Homo sapiens: one gene and its partner. The protein of the gene in region 1 purifies or fractionates together with the protein of each later gene. This does not show direct contact. Each region holds a gene or a part of one and is shown on either strand. Other genes may lie near its edges.

Region 1 (4,627 bases):
GAGTGGTATAAATAGAAAAAAAATCTACATTTCTTACATAAATTAAGATTTATCAAAAGGATATCATGGCTGGGCATGGTAGCTCATGCATGTAATCCCAGCACTTTGGGAGGCCAAGACAGGAGGATCACTTTAGTGCCCAGGAGTTCAAGCCCATCCCGGGCAACACAGCGAGACCCTGCCAAAAAAAAAGTTATTGCTTTTCAAAATAAGGTGATTATTCACTTTGGGAGGCCAAAACCCTATCTCTACTCAAAATACAAAAATTTGCCTGGTGTGGTGGCACACACCTGTAATCCCAGCAATTTGGGATTACAACTTTGCTTCATTTTTTTTGGCTTTTAATTTTATTTGACACAGAGTTTCACTCTTGTCCCCCAGGCTGGAGGGCAGTGGTGTGGTCTCAGCTCACTGCAACCTCCACCTCCCAGGTTCAAATGATTCTACTGTCTCAGCCTCCCGAGTAGCTGGGATTACAGGTGCACACCACCACACCCGGCTAATTTTTTGTATTTTTAGTAGAGATGGGGTTTCACCGTGTTGGGCAGGCTGGTCTTAAACTCCTGATCTTAGGTGATCCACCCGCCTCAGCCTCCCAAAGTGCTGGGATTACAGACTGAGCCACGGCTCCCAGCCTACTTTGCTTCATTTCTTGATACTAAGATCACATACTAGATGAGTAGACTCATAGGTGAAGTCATCAAGTATATTGAAATCTGGTTACTCTAACCTTGAGTTTCACTTCGTTTGGGTGTTTTGTTTTTTATATTATGACAGTCCTAGAACTTGATACTAAAGTTATCATTTATGCAGATACTAATAGAAGTGAAAATCTTGACAAAGAATAAAATTATGCTCATGAAAATATGTTCTGGATATTTTAGATTCTTCAAAGAAGGAACCAAGGTGGAATTTTTGGAAGTATCTTGTCAACCCTGAGGGTCAAGTTGTGAAGTTCTGGAAGCCAGAGGAGCCCATTGAAGTCATCAGGCCTGACATAGCAGCTCTGGTTAGACAAGTGATCATAAAAAAGAAAGAGGATCTATGAGAATGCCATTGCGTTTCTAATAGAACAGAGAAATGTCTCCATGAGGGTTTGGTCTCATTTTAAACATTTTTTTTTTGGAGACAGTGTCTCACTCTGTCACCCAGGCTGGAGTGCAGTAGTGCGTTCTCAGCTCATTGCAACCTCTGCCTTTTTAAACATGCTATTAAATGTGGCAATGAAGGATTTTTTTTTAATGTTATCTTGCTATTAAGTGGTAATGAATGTTCCCAGGATGAGGATGTTACCCAAAGCAAAAATCAAGAGTAGCCAAAGAATCAACATGAAATATATTAACTACTTCCTCTGACCATACTAAAGAATTCAGAATACACAGTGACCAATGTGCCTCAATATCTTATTGTTCAACTTGACATTTTCTAGGACTGTACTTGATGAAAATGCCAACACACTAGACCACTCTTTGGATTCAAGAGCACTGTGTATGACTGAAATTTCTGGAATAACTGTAAATGGTTATGTTAATGGAATAAAACACAAATGTTGAAAAATGTAAAATATATATACATAGATTCAAATCCTTATATATGTATGCTTGTTTTGTGTACAGGATTTTGTTTTTTCTTTTTAAGTACAGGTTCCTAGTGTTTTACTATAACTGTCACTATGTATGTAACTGACATATATAAATAGTCATTTATAAATGACCGTATTATAACATTTGAAAAAGTCTTCATCATTTTCAGTATTTCTCTCTGCATTATTTTTTAGAAGCAACTCAAATTCTGTAATCATAATATTACCAAGTAAGTCAGTCTTTATTTTTGCGTGAAAATCCCAAGTGTAGAAAAAAGGACATGAGTATAAGATCATTTAACTTGATTCCTTATAGGCTGATTTGGGTTGCTAATGTATTCGTACTAGATTAGCCACTTGGGAGGAATTCAATGCTGCATCATTCTGATAGCTGAAATAGTAAAAGTCAACTCCAAACAGCCTAAATTCTAGTATAAAAAGGGGGTGATCATACAAGTCCTAAAGTGTAGATCAGCAGTCACTGAACCTCTTAGAGTCACAAGGCATTTCTTCTCCCAAAGTCATGACCTTTATATTTTGTTAGCCTTATAATTGACTAACAAAGCAACCTGCCAAGTTGGTGAAGGTTAATTATTGCCTCATGAAATATACATTCATCGCATAAAAGAATTAAATAGGAAGATGGCCAAAAATGTAAAAAAGTCGTATAAATTTGTCTAAGAAGAAAAAGACCCAATTTAAGTAGTCTGTGACTTGACTCCCAAATTCTGACCTGATGGATGAAAGTGAAGATGTTTCGTATGGCAAATTCAGTAATGCTACCTCAGTATATAGTTCTGTATACGTATTTGGACCAAAGTTATTAGATAAACCAAAAATATTTCATGAAGCATCTTCTGCTTCAGAGTCCATATCCAGCCACCCAGCTATGAATGTATTTAGAAAGATATTTGGTGGAGGTGGAATTTCTACCAGAGGTCAAGAGGATTTGTAGGGATAGCCTCAAGAATGCCAGATGAGTGTGTCAGAAAGCCTGCTCCTACCTCTCGCCAGCTGCGTGACTTTAGGCAAGTCACTTAAGTACCTTATTTCAGTTTCCTCACCTGTAAATTGAACAGGGGTTGAATGGAATAAAAAGCCCTTTGCAACTCTAAAAGTCAATTAACACACTTACTAAGGTGTTTTAAGTGACCAGGAAGGAAATCAGAACTAACCTGGATTGTTAGCGAAGAAAACAGAAGCCACCAACAAGCCTATCTGTCCTTTGCAATTTTGCTCCAAGAGCCTATTAGCAATTTGAATTCTGAGCCTCTAAGAAAACTTATGCTCAGGTGGCCCCTCCAAGTGTTGGTGCCAGAGCACTCTTGCCTTGTATCCTCACCTACGCCTTCCATGAACTCATAGCAGTGCTGTGGCACTGCAGGGGTGTTTTATGCATTCACGTTAGGAGCATGAGCAGAACTGCATATGCCAGCACCACATGGGCAGCAGAGACTCCCCACTGCCAGATGGATGATAATGGAGCTGCACTGGGAACAACCAGGACTGTCCCAGTCAACATGATACAGATGAACATCCTGCCTTAAGTCACTAGCTCTCTCCAAAGCCAGATAAAGTGGGTTTCTTCACTTACATCTCTCTAATCTTGGCTGCCTTATTCAACCTACAGACTCTATGTCAGTGCTGGATTTTCTCCCCTTGCCCTTTAGGTAAGCAGAGTAGGCAGGAGGAGATTTGAAAGCGTGTCATACATATTGCCTTGAAAGAAAGGACATTCAGGTGTCCCTTCGGGGTTCTGTAACAATTAGGCTATGTGTGCTGAGAGAGGGAGCGGAGTCATTTGCTGATGTGCTGCTACCTGTAACTCAAATGCCTCATAGGAATACCAGCGGACAAACACATAGAGGAAAAGTTGAATCTTTCCTATATTGGACAATCTTCCTTCAGTCTTGTTTCTGCATCAAAAAGTCTGGGACACAGAGTGCTACAGGATGCCTGGGCTAAGGACTGTAACAGAAAAATATCAACATCAGAGCCTGGCACAGTGGCTCACACCGGTAATCCCAGCACTTTGGGAGGCCGAGGCGGGTGGATCACTTCAGGTCAGGAGTTCGAGACCATCCTGGCCAACATGGTGAAACCCCCATCTCTACTAAAAATACAAAAATTAGCCGGGCACGGTGGCACATGCCTGTAATCCCAGCTACCTGGGAGGCTGAGTCAGAAGAATCACTTGAAAACAGGAGGCTGAGGTTGCAATGAGCCAAGATTGCACCACTGCACTCCAACCTGGGCAACAGAGCGAGACCCCATCTTAAAGACCCTGTCTCAAAAAAGAGAGAAAAAGAAAAAGAAAAATATCAGGCATCACATGAAAGAGTATTCAGCTGTCGTTCTTGTGAAAAAGGAAAAGGACAAAATCAAATGCATTTTAACTGTGGTAACTAATTCACTGACTTGAAGTTTGCTTTGTTTGTTTTCTTTGGTGCGTAGAGAAGAATACTTCATACTAACTCCTGATCATCTTACAGCAGACATAACAACAGAGTGTTAGAGACTGGAATAAATATGAATTTGGCTGAAATGTGCCCTGAAAGTTGTATTTCATTTTTTTAAATGTTTAACAATTACACTGTATCAATAGTATATATACGTGTACATATATATAATTCTTAATAACTGCAGTGTATCTAGCATATATATAATGGTGGCTGGTACATGTTTAATAGCAGACTCTGGAGGAGGAATCCTGACATACAGCATTTGCCAGCTCAATGTAAATGCTCATGCTCCCTCATGGTCAATTTCAATCTACCACTGGTTTAGTAACTAGGATGCAAAATTTCTAAAAATGTGATAATTGGTGATGGGCATGATGGCTCAGGCCTGTAATATCAGCACTTTAAGCAGCTGAGGTGGGAGGATCACTTGAGCCCAGGAGTTAGAGACCAGCCTGGGGCAACATGGCAAAACCCTGTCTCCACAAAAAAAATCAAAAAATTAGCTGGGTGTAGTGGCACATGCCTCAGGTCCCAGCTACATAGGAGGCTGAGGTGGAAGGATTGCTTGAGCCCAAAGAGGTCA
Region 2 (7,563 bases), on another chromosome or scaffold:
GTGGCTGGCTCCTCCTCATCCGTACTTGACTTAAATGCCAACTTCGCAAGAAAACCTCTCCTGACCATAACATGGCATTAATTATACTCTGTAGTATCACCCTTTTGTTTTCACAGAAAAAAAAAATCTGAAATTACCTTTATTTTTTATTGCCTGTCTCACCTACTAGCAATGTAAATTGGTCGTGTTGATCACTGCTGTATTCCTAGCTTCTTGAACACTGCCTGGGGTTCAGTAAATATTTATTGACTGGACAAATGGATGGATTCGAACAGGCCAAGGAAAGAGACTCCGAGCCCGAGTCTGGGTCTCACAGGGTGCTGGAGGGAAGGGCGCCTGGGTCGCCAGGGCAGCATAGAGTCCCTTGTGGAGTGCCGCAGATTTTGGAGGCAGGATCCCATTCCTGTCGCAGAACCCAGACCTCCTGCCTCCCAGCCCTTGGGCAAGGGCAGGGGGCTGATTGCCACGAGCTGGAACAGGACGCAGTGTCTCCTGAAAAGCCGGTTGAGGCAGCCACGGGGAGGGGCCGAAGACCCAGGGCAGCAGGAGCCTGTGAGCCAGAACCTGGGCTGGGGCCAGGCCCTCATCCTTCCTGCCCTCCCGACATGGGGCCTCCTAAGCCCCAACCTGAAGCCCCAAGTGTTGACATATTGGCTCGGGTTGGAGGGGAAACAGCTGAGAGTCTGGCCTCAGGCATGAAAAGGGCATCGGAAGGAAGGGCAGGTGGTGGTGGGCAGGCTTGGGGCAGCAGATGCATCTAGAAGCCAGTTGGGAGGGAGGCTAAGACCAGAACGAGAGCCAGTGGGTGGGTACAGTAGGTGCAGGGGTGAAAGATATTTGGGTTTTGGTGCCAAGGGGAGAGACTGAGAGAGGGGTGGAGGTGGGATTGCTGGTGGGAAGGCCAGGCAGGAACAATGTGCAGGGTGTGAGCAGCTGGAGGTGGCAGAGCTATGTGTGTGGGTGCCCAGGTGTGGCGAGAATCTGCACGTGTTTTCAGGCTTTGCTCAAACAAAGGCGCCAAGGCCCACTCCCCTCAGAGGACCCGGGGTTCCTCTCCAGCTCCTGGACACTTGACTCCACCCAAAGACAGGCATCCCAGGACAGATATCCAGAAGCTTCTGCCTTCTCTGGGCTCTGCCTATAGAGGGTGACTAAGTGTGCCACCTCTCCAAGCTTGAGCTCATCAAATCTGTTTCCCGGTTTCACACTCCAGGGACAAAGCCAAATTCCTGGGCAAACTCAGGTGTGGTTTTTCTGCCCTGGTCCAGGGCCGAAATGATGGAGTTTCCCATACCAGGAGGTGGCTGGGCAGAGAAGAGTGGGTGATGAGTGTCAGAATCCTAACCCACCCAGAGATCAAGAGGTGGGATTTCTCCCACTTTGAACTGTGTTCCATCTTCTTTTTGTGTTTTTGGAGGGAGAGTCTCACTCTATCCCCCAGGCTGGCATGCAGTGGCATGATCTCGGCTCACTGCAACCTCCGCCTCCCGGGTTCAAGTGATTCTTCTGCCTCAGCCTCCCGAGTAGCTGGGATTAGCCGGGCACCTGCCATGATGCCCAGCTAATTTTTGTACTTTCAGTAGAGACGGGGTTTCACCATGTTGGCCAGGCTGGTCTCGAACCCCTGACCTCAGGTGATCCGCCCACCTCGGCCTCCCCAAGGGCAGGGATTACAGGCGTGAGCCACTGTGCCTGGCCTGAACTGTGTTCCATCTTCTCTATCCCTCTCCACCCCATCCTTTCATCTTCTGCCAGCCTCAGTCCCTCTCCTCTGTCTCTCTATTCCCATGTGGCACGATTCGATTCAGGACTTCAGCATCTGGCTCCATAACTGAGAATGGCCTGGAGTTGTCCTTTCTTTATTTTATTTATTTTTTTTATGAAGTATCACTCTGTTGCCCAGGTTGGAGTGCAGTGGCAATCTCGGCTCACTGCAACCTCCGCCTCCCAGGTTCAAGTGATTCGCCTGCCTCAGCCTCCCGAGTAGCTAGGATTACAGATGCATGCCACTACACCTGGCTAATTTTTGTATTTTTAGTAGAGATGGAGTTTCACCATGTTGGCCAGGCTGGTCTCAAACTCCTGACCTCAGGTGGTCTACCTGCCTCGGCCTCCCAAAGTGCTGGGATTACATGTGTGAGCCACTGCACCCAGCCAAAATCAGCCCCTTTTGAATCCTGGTTTTGTTGAGGTTATATTTTTCACCTCCTTGATTGTACACCAAAATGTAGCTCCCTTTGTTTAATTAATCATCTGTGTTTTGGTCTCGGTTCGTTAAAACCTCCTCACCTGTACACTTAGTTTACTTTCTTCTCCCAGGCCATCAAAGCAGGAGAGCCTCACCCTGCCCTGGTCCCATGGCAGGTGCTTGGCAAATGAATTTCTCATGGATGTTGGCGGAAGGAAGAGGTTATGTCATTCTGCCCCTTCTTGCATCCATCCCTCTCTGGGATGGTGACTCCTTCCTGGCACAAACCCCCACTCCCCCTGAACCTTGGTCACAGCTGCGTGTCAACCTGCTGTGCAGGTGATGGTGCCTGCCTGTGAGTCACTGAGGTGCAAGCAAACCCCTACCCCGGGGCTGCAGGGGAGGGAGCTGTTTGTCCACTTGTTCTTTGTCAGACGTTCATTGAAAACCTGCTTTGTATTGTTCTAAGTGCTGGAGGCACAGTCGTGAACAAACAAACAAGAACAGGAGCCCTGTGAGGGGCTTAGAGCCCAAGGGGGAGACATCGAACAAATAAACCAATCAGTAGATCATGACAAACTACATGAAAAGCTACAAGGAAAAGAATGGGTGCTGCGAGAAGATATAACGTGAAGAGTTTGATAAGATTGGCGATCAGGGCCGGGCGAGGTGGTTCACGCCTGTAATCCCACCACTTTGGGAGGCCGAGGCAGATGGATCACCTGAGGTCAGGAGTTTGAGATCAGCCTGGCCAACATGGTGAAACCCCGTCTCTACTAAAAATACAAAAACAAAAAAAAAATTAGCTAGGTGTAGTGGCGCACGCCTGTAGTCCCAGCTACTCAGGAGGCTGAGGCGGGAGAATCACTTGAACCCAGGAGGCGGAGGTTGCGGTGAGCTGAGATCGCACCATTGCACTCCAGCCTAGGCAACAAGAGCGAAACTCTGTCTCAAAAAAAAGAAAAGAAAAGAAAAGATTAGCGATCAGATGAAACCTGAGGAATTGACATTTATTCATTCAGGTATAGTTTATTGGGCTAACGCCTTTTTCAGACAGGGTCTTGCTCTGTCTCCCAGCTGGAGTGCAGTGACACAATCACAGCTCACTGCAGCCTTGACCTCCTAGGCTCAAGTGATCCTCCCACCTCAGCCTCCCTAATAATTGGGACAACAGGCATGCACCACCACACCTGGCTACTTTTTTTATTTTTTGTAGATACAGGGTTTTGCCACATTGCCCATGTTGGTCTCAAACTCCTGGACTCAAATGATCCTCCCACCTCAGCCTCCCAAAGTGTTGGGATTACAGGCATGAGCCACTGCGTCCAGCCCACAAACACCTTTCAGGTGCCAAACACTTTTCTTGTCAATGGGATACAGAAGTGACATAGATGACGTCCCTGTCCTCTCAGAGCTTACAGTCTGGTGGACAGAGACAGTTGGCAAGAAAACAAACAATTTTTAGAGAGACATGTGCTCTAAGGAAAATAAAAACATAGACAGTGTAGCCCTAGAGAAATTTTGCACACTGAAGCATAACTCAGAATGGAGAAGTCAGACAAGGCTTCCTGGAAGATGGGCAGAAATTGGGAAGGGGGTGACGGCTGACAGTGACAGAGAAAGGAGGGAACTTAGATGCAGAGTGTAGAAAGCCTCTCTTAAAGGGTGGGAAACCAAGAGGCAGCCAAGGGAAGCCCTGGGTGGGCCTTCCAGGCATACGGAGGCAGCAAGAGTCACTCCACTGGAGAATCCAAGGGACAGCATGGAACCTGTGTGCTTCAAGAGACAGAGAAGAGGAAAGGGCTTTCAGGAACAGTGTAAAAGGTGGGATTCCAGGCTGGGTGTGGTGGCTCGCTCCTGTAATCCCAGCATTTTGGAAGGCCGAGGTGGGAGGATCGCTTGAGCCCAAGGGTTCTAGACCAGCCTGAGCAAAAGAGTGAGACCCTCTCTCTACAAAAAAATAAAAAGTAAAAATAGCCTGCAGTGGTGGCTGCACATGTAGTCCCAGCTACTCAGGAGGCCGAGGCGGGAGGATCGCTTGAGCCCAGGAGTTCAAGGCTGCAGTGAGCCATGATTGCACCACTGCACTCCAGCCTAGGAGAAAGAGTGACACCCCGTCTCAAAATAAATAAACAAATGATAATTTTAAAAAGTGGGATTCCATTCCAGACGGCAGTGCGTGGCCGTGGAACGGTGATGCATAGCGTGCTGACGTCCCATGCCTCTACGGGGATGGGATGCGATGGTGTCAGGCCTCTGGCTTGGGCGCCGCCCCTCGGCGACGTCACTGGGTACTGTGACGTCACTGGGTGCTGTGACATCAGGGCAATTAGCCCAGGACCCACAGCCCTGGCGCTCCGCACGCACCTCGGTAACATCACAGCAGGTCCAGGCCAATGATAACCTTATAAGAGGCCATGTCGAAGCGCGACATCGTCCTCACCAATGTCACCGTTGTCCAGTTGCTGCGACAGCCGTGCCCGGGTGAGGGAGGCAGCGGAGGGCGCGGGGGAGGGGTGGAAAGGGTAGTGGGGAGCGTCTGCACCCTCACACCTGTGCCGTATCCCTACCGCCCTTCCTGGCGTGTGCACCATCTAGGGACCAGGGGATCAGCCGCTCTCCCTCCCTCCACACCCGCCAGTGTGCTGGCAGAGTGGGGTTTACTGCCATGGCGGGGAGACCGGGCCTCCGCCCCCAGGGCTGGGTGGGCTTCGCGCCGCTATCACGCGGTAGAAAGAGCAGAAACGAGGGCCATCGGAGGCTGCAGCCTGAAAGTGGCGGGAAGTGGGCGGGCTTAGGAGGGGCTTAGGGAGAACCCAGGGGTGCTGGGCTTCCATGTAAAAGTGATGTTCATGGCGCTTCGCGTGAGGTGAGCTTTGCCCTCCCTGTGATGCACAAAACAAGGACACTTGGAACCTTGCCGGGGACGTGCTGACCACTTCGCAGGCGAGAGCTCAGGGAAGCCTCACCACCACCTGAGAAGGCCAGAGTGTGCCCGCAGTTTACAGAGCGGCCAACAGAGGTTAAGAGAGGGCAAACTACTTCCTTAGTCTCTCAACAAGGGCGGCGCGCCCGCGCGCGCGCACACACACACACACACACTCACTCACTCACTCTAGCCGGAGGAACCAGGTCTTCCGGTGGGCTGCCTCCATTCCCACACTGTTCCCTCACTTCCCAAGGGCGGGGGCCGCAGGGGTAGGTGGGGCTGGGGCTTTGGTCCAGGAGACCCTGGAAGACACAGGAGCAGACAGGCTTACCAGCCTCATGAGACTTGAACCCCTGCCCTGCGCATCACTGCTCCGTGGCCTCAGGCTTCATTTTCCCCTCTGTAAAGTGGGTTTATAGCGCATGCCTCTCGGGATTCAGTGGGAGGACGCAGTGAGGAGCTGGGGGCAGCACCCAGCTAGCCCCCAGGCTTTTCTCCAACCGGGGGACCCCACCCCTACAGTGGAGGGGAAGAGAGTGCAAGGCTGGGAGTGCTGGGAGAGGAGGACCATCTGAGTTTTCTTCGGAAGGGTCACCCATTGGGCTCAGATTCCCACCTGAACCAGGTGGACAAATCCCCTTTCTCCCATAGCAGAAACAACCCCCAAGGATGCAAACATCCTCAAGTTCACCAATAAACACTAACACCTTCATGAACTTGGACAGCCACTGGAAACACCTATAGTCCAGCCTCAGGCCACAAGGTCTGTGGCAACAGGGAGAGGTCAGGGAGACAGACAGGCCAGCTGGCCCCCGGCTCCCAGCCCCACCACCCCCCAGGTGCCTTTGATTTGGTGCCAAAAACTTGGACTCCCACTACCCCCTTCCAGCCCTTCTCCACCCCCTGCTGTCTCCCTTTCCTCAGGAATCTGTGTAGGATCAGACTTCCCTCCTCTATTAAAATCAGCTCCTATGTGTGGGCCTCGAGATCTCACTGCGCCCTCACAGCAGCCCCTAGGTGGGGGATCAGCCCCAAGAGGTTCATTAACTTGCTCAAATCCACAGAGCAGCAGGTCTGTGTGGACTGAGCCAGGCTTGACTTTCCAGCTTGAAACTCTCTGCCACCAGGTCCCCTGAGTCTCCACTTCTCCCCTCTTCTCAAGCCCTCCTCTGTAGCTCAGGCGGCTGCTACCTCCAGGCGCAGGTGTTTTTAAGTGCAGTCTGGGAGCAGGAGTGTGTGTGGAGAGGTGGGAGCCAATGTGAGCTTCCATGGGTTTCACAGAGTATGATACACGGTACTCTCTAAGCTTCCCTGAGGATAAGAAATGCCTGGAGTGCTTATTTTATTTTTTATTTTTTTTTGGGAGATGGAGTTTCGCTCTTGTTGCCCAGGCTGGAGTGCAGTGGCACGATCTCGCCCACCACAACCTCCGCCTCCTGGGTTCAAGCGATTCTCCTGCTTCAGCCTCCTGAGTAGCTGGGATTACAAGCATGTGCCACCACGCCTGGCTAATTTTTTTGTATTTTTAGTAGAGACGGGGTTTCTGCATGTTGGTCAGACTGGTCTCAAACTCCCAACCTCAGGTGATCTGCCTGCCTCGGCCTCCCAAAGTGCTGGGATTACAGGCGTGAGCCACCGCTCCCGGCCTGGAGTGCTGATTAAAAACAGGATTTCTGGGCCTCCATACAGACCCACTGAGTCCGATTTTTCTAGGAAGAGCCCTCCTCAGGTGATTTTTTTTTTTTTTTGAGACAGAGTCTCACTCTGTCGCCCAGGCTGGAGTGCAGTGGCGCAATCTCGGCTCACTGCACCCTCCGCCTCCCAGGTTCAAGAGATTCTCTTGCCTCAGCCCCCCGAGGAGCTGGGATTACAGTATTTTTAGTAGAGAACAGGTTTCTCCATGTTGGCCAAGCTGGTCTTGAACTCCTGACCTCAAGTGATCCACCCACCTTGGCCTCCCAAAGTGCCAGGATTACAGGTGTGAGCCACCACGCCTGGCCACTCCGACGACTCCTATCATGGAACAGTTTGGGGACCACTGGGCTAAATCAATTATTGGACAAATTCGGGGAACAATCTACAAAATACTAATGCATGTCAAACATTTCCTCGGCTTGGTCATAAGCAATCCATGTATTACCTCATTTAATCCTCACAACAACCCTCTAAGAAAAGTACTATTATCTCCCCTTACAGAGGAGGAAACTGAGGCACAGAGAATGTCACCCCAAGCGATCTATGTTGAAAGTACATACCCCGGCCAGGCGCAGTGGCTCACACCTGTAATCCCAGCACTTTGGGAGGCTGAGGCGGGTGGATCACCTAAGGTCAGGAGTTCGAGACCAGCCTGGCCAAGTGAAACCCTGTATCTACTAAAAATACAAAAATTAGCCAGGCACCTTGGCGGGTGCTTATAATCCCAGCTACTCGGGAGGCTGAGGCAGGA

Evidence for each region.
Region 2: the proteins of GPX8 (region 1) and GAPDHS purify together in Homo sapiens (affinity purification with mass spectrometry; 3 studies listed by BioGRID and IntAct, with this or other methods). This does not show direct contact.

What each region holds. Positions count from the first base shown.
Region 1 is NC_000005.10:55,163,171-55,167,797, forward strand, and holds the end of GPX8 (probable glutathione peroxidase 8), read left to right. Parts: intron 1-884; coding exon 885-1,048; 3' UTR 1,049-4,127; downstream 4,128-4,627.
Region 2 is NC_000019.10:35,528,923-35,536,485, forward strand, and holds the start of GAPDHS (glyceraldehyde-3-phosphate dehydrogenase, testis-specific), read left to right. Parts: upstream 1-4,533; 5' UTR 4,534-4,605; coding exon 4,606-4,672; intron 4,673-7,563. UniProt on the Homo sapiens protein: May play an important role in regulating the switch between different pathways for energy production during spermiogenesis and in the spermatozoon. Required for sperm motility and male fertility.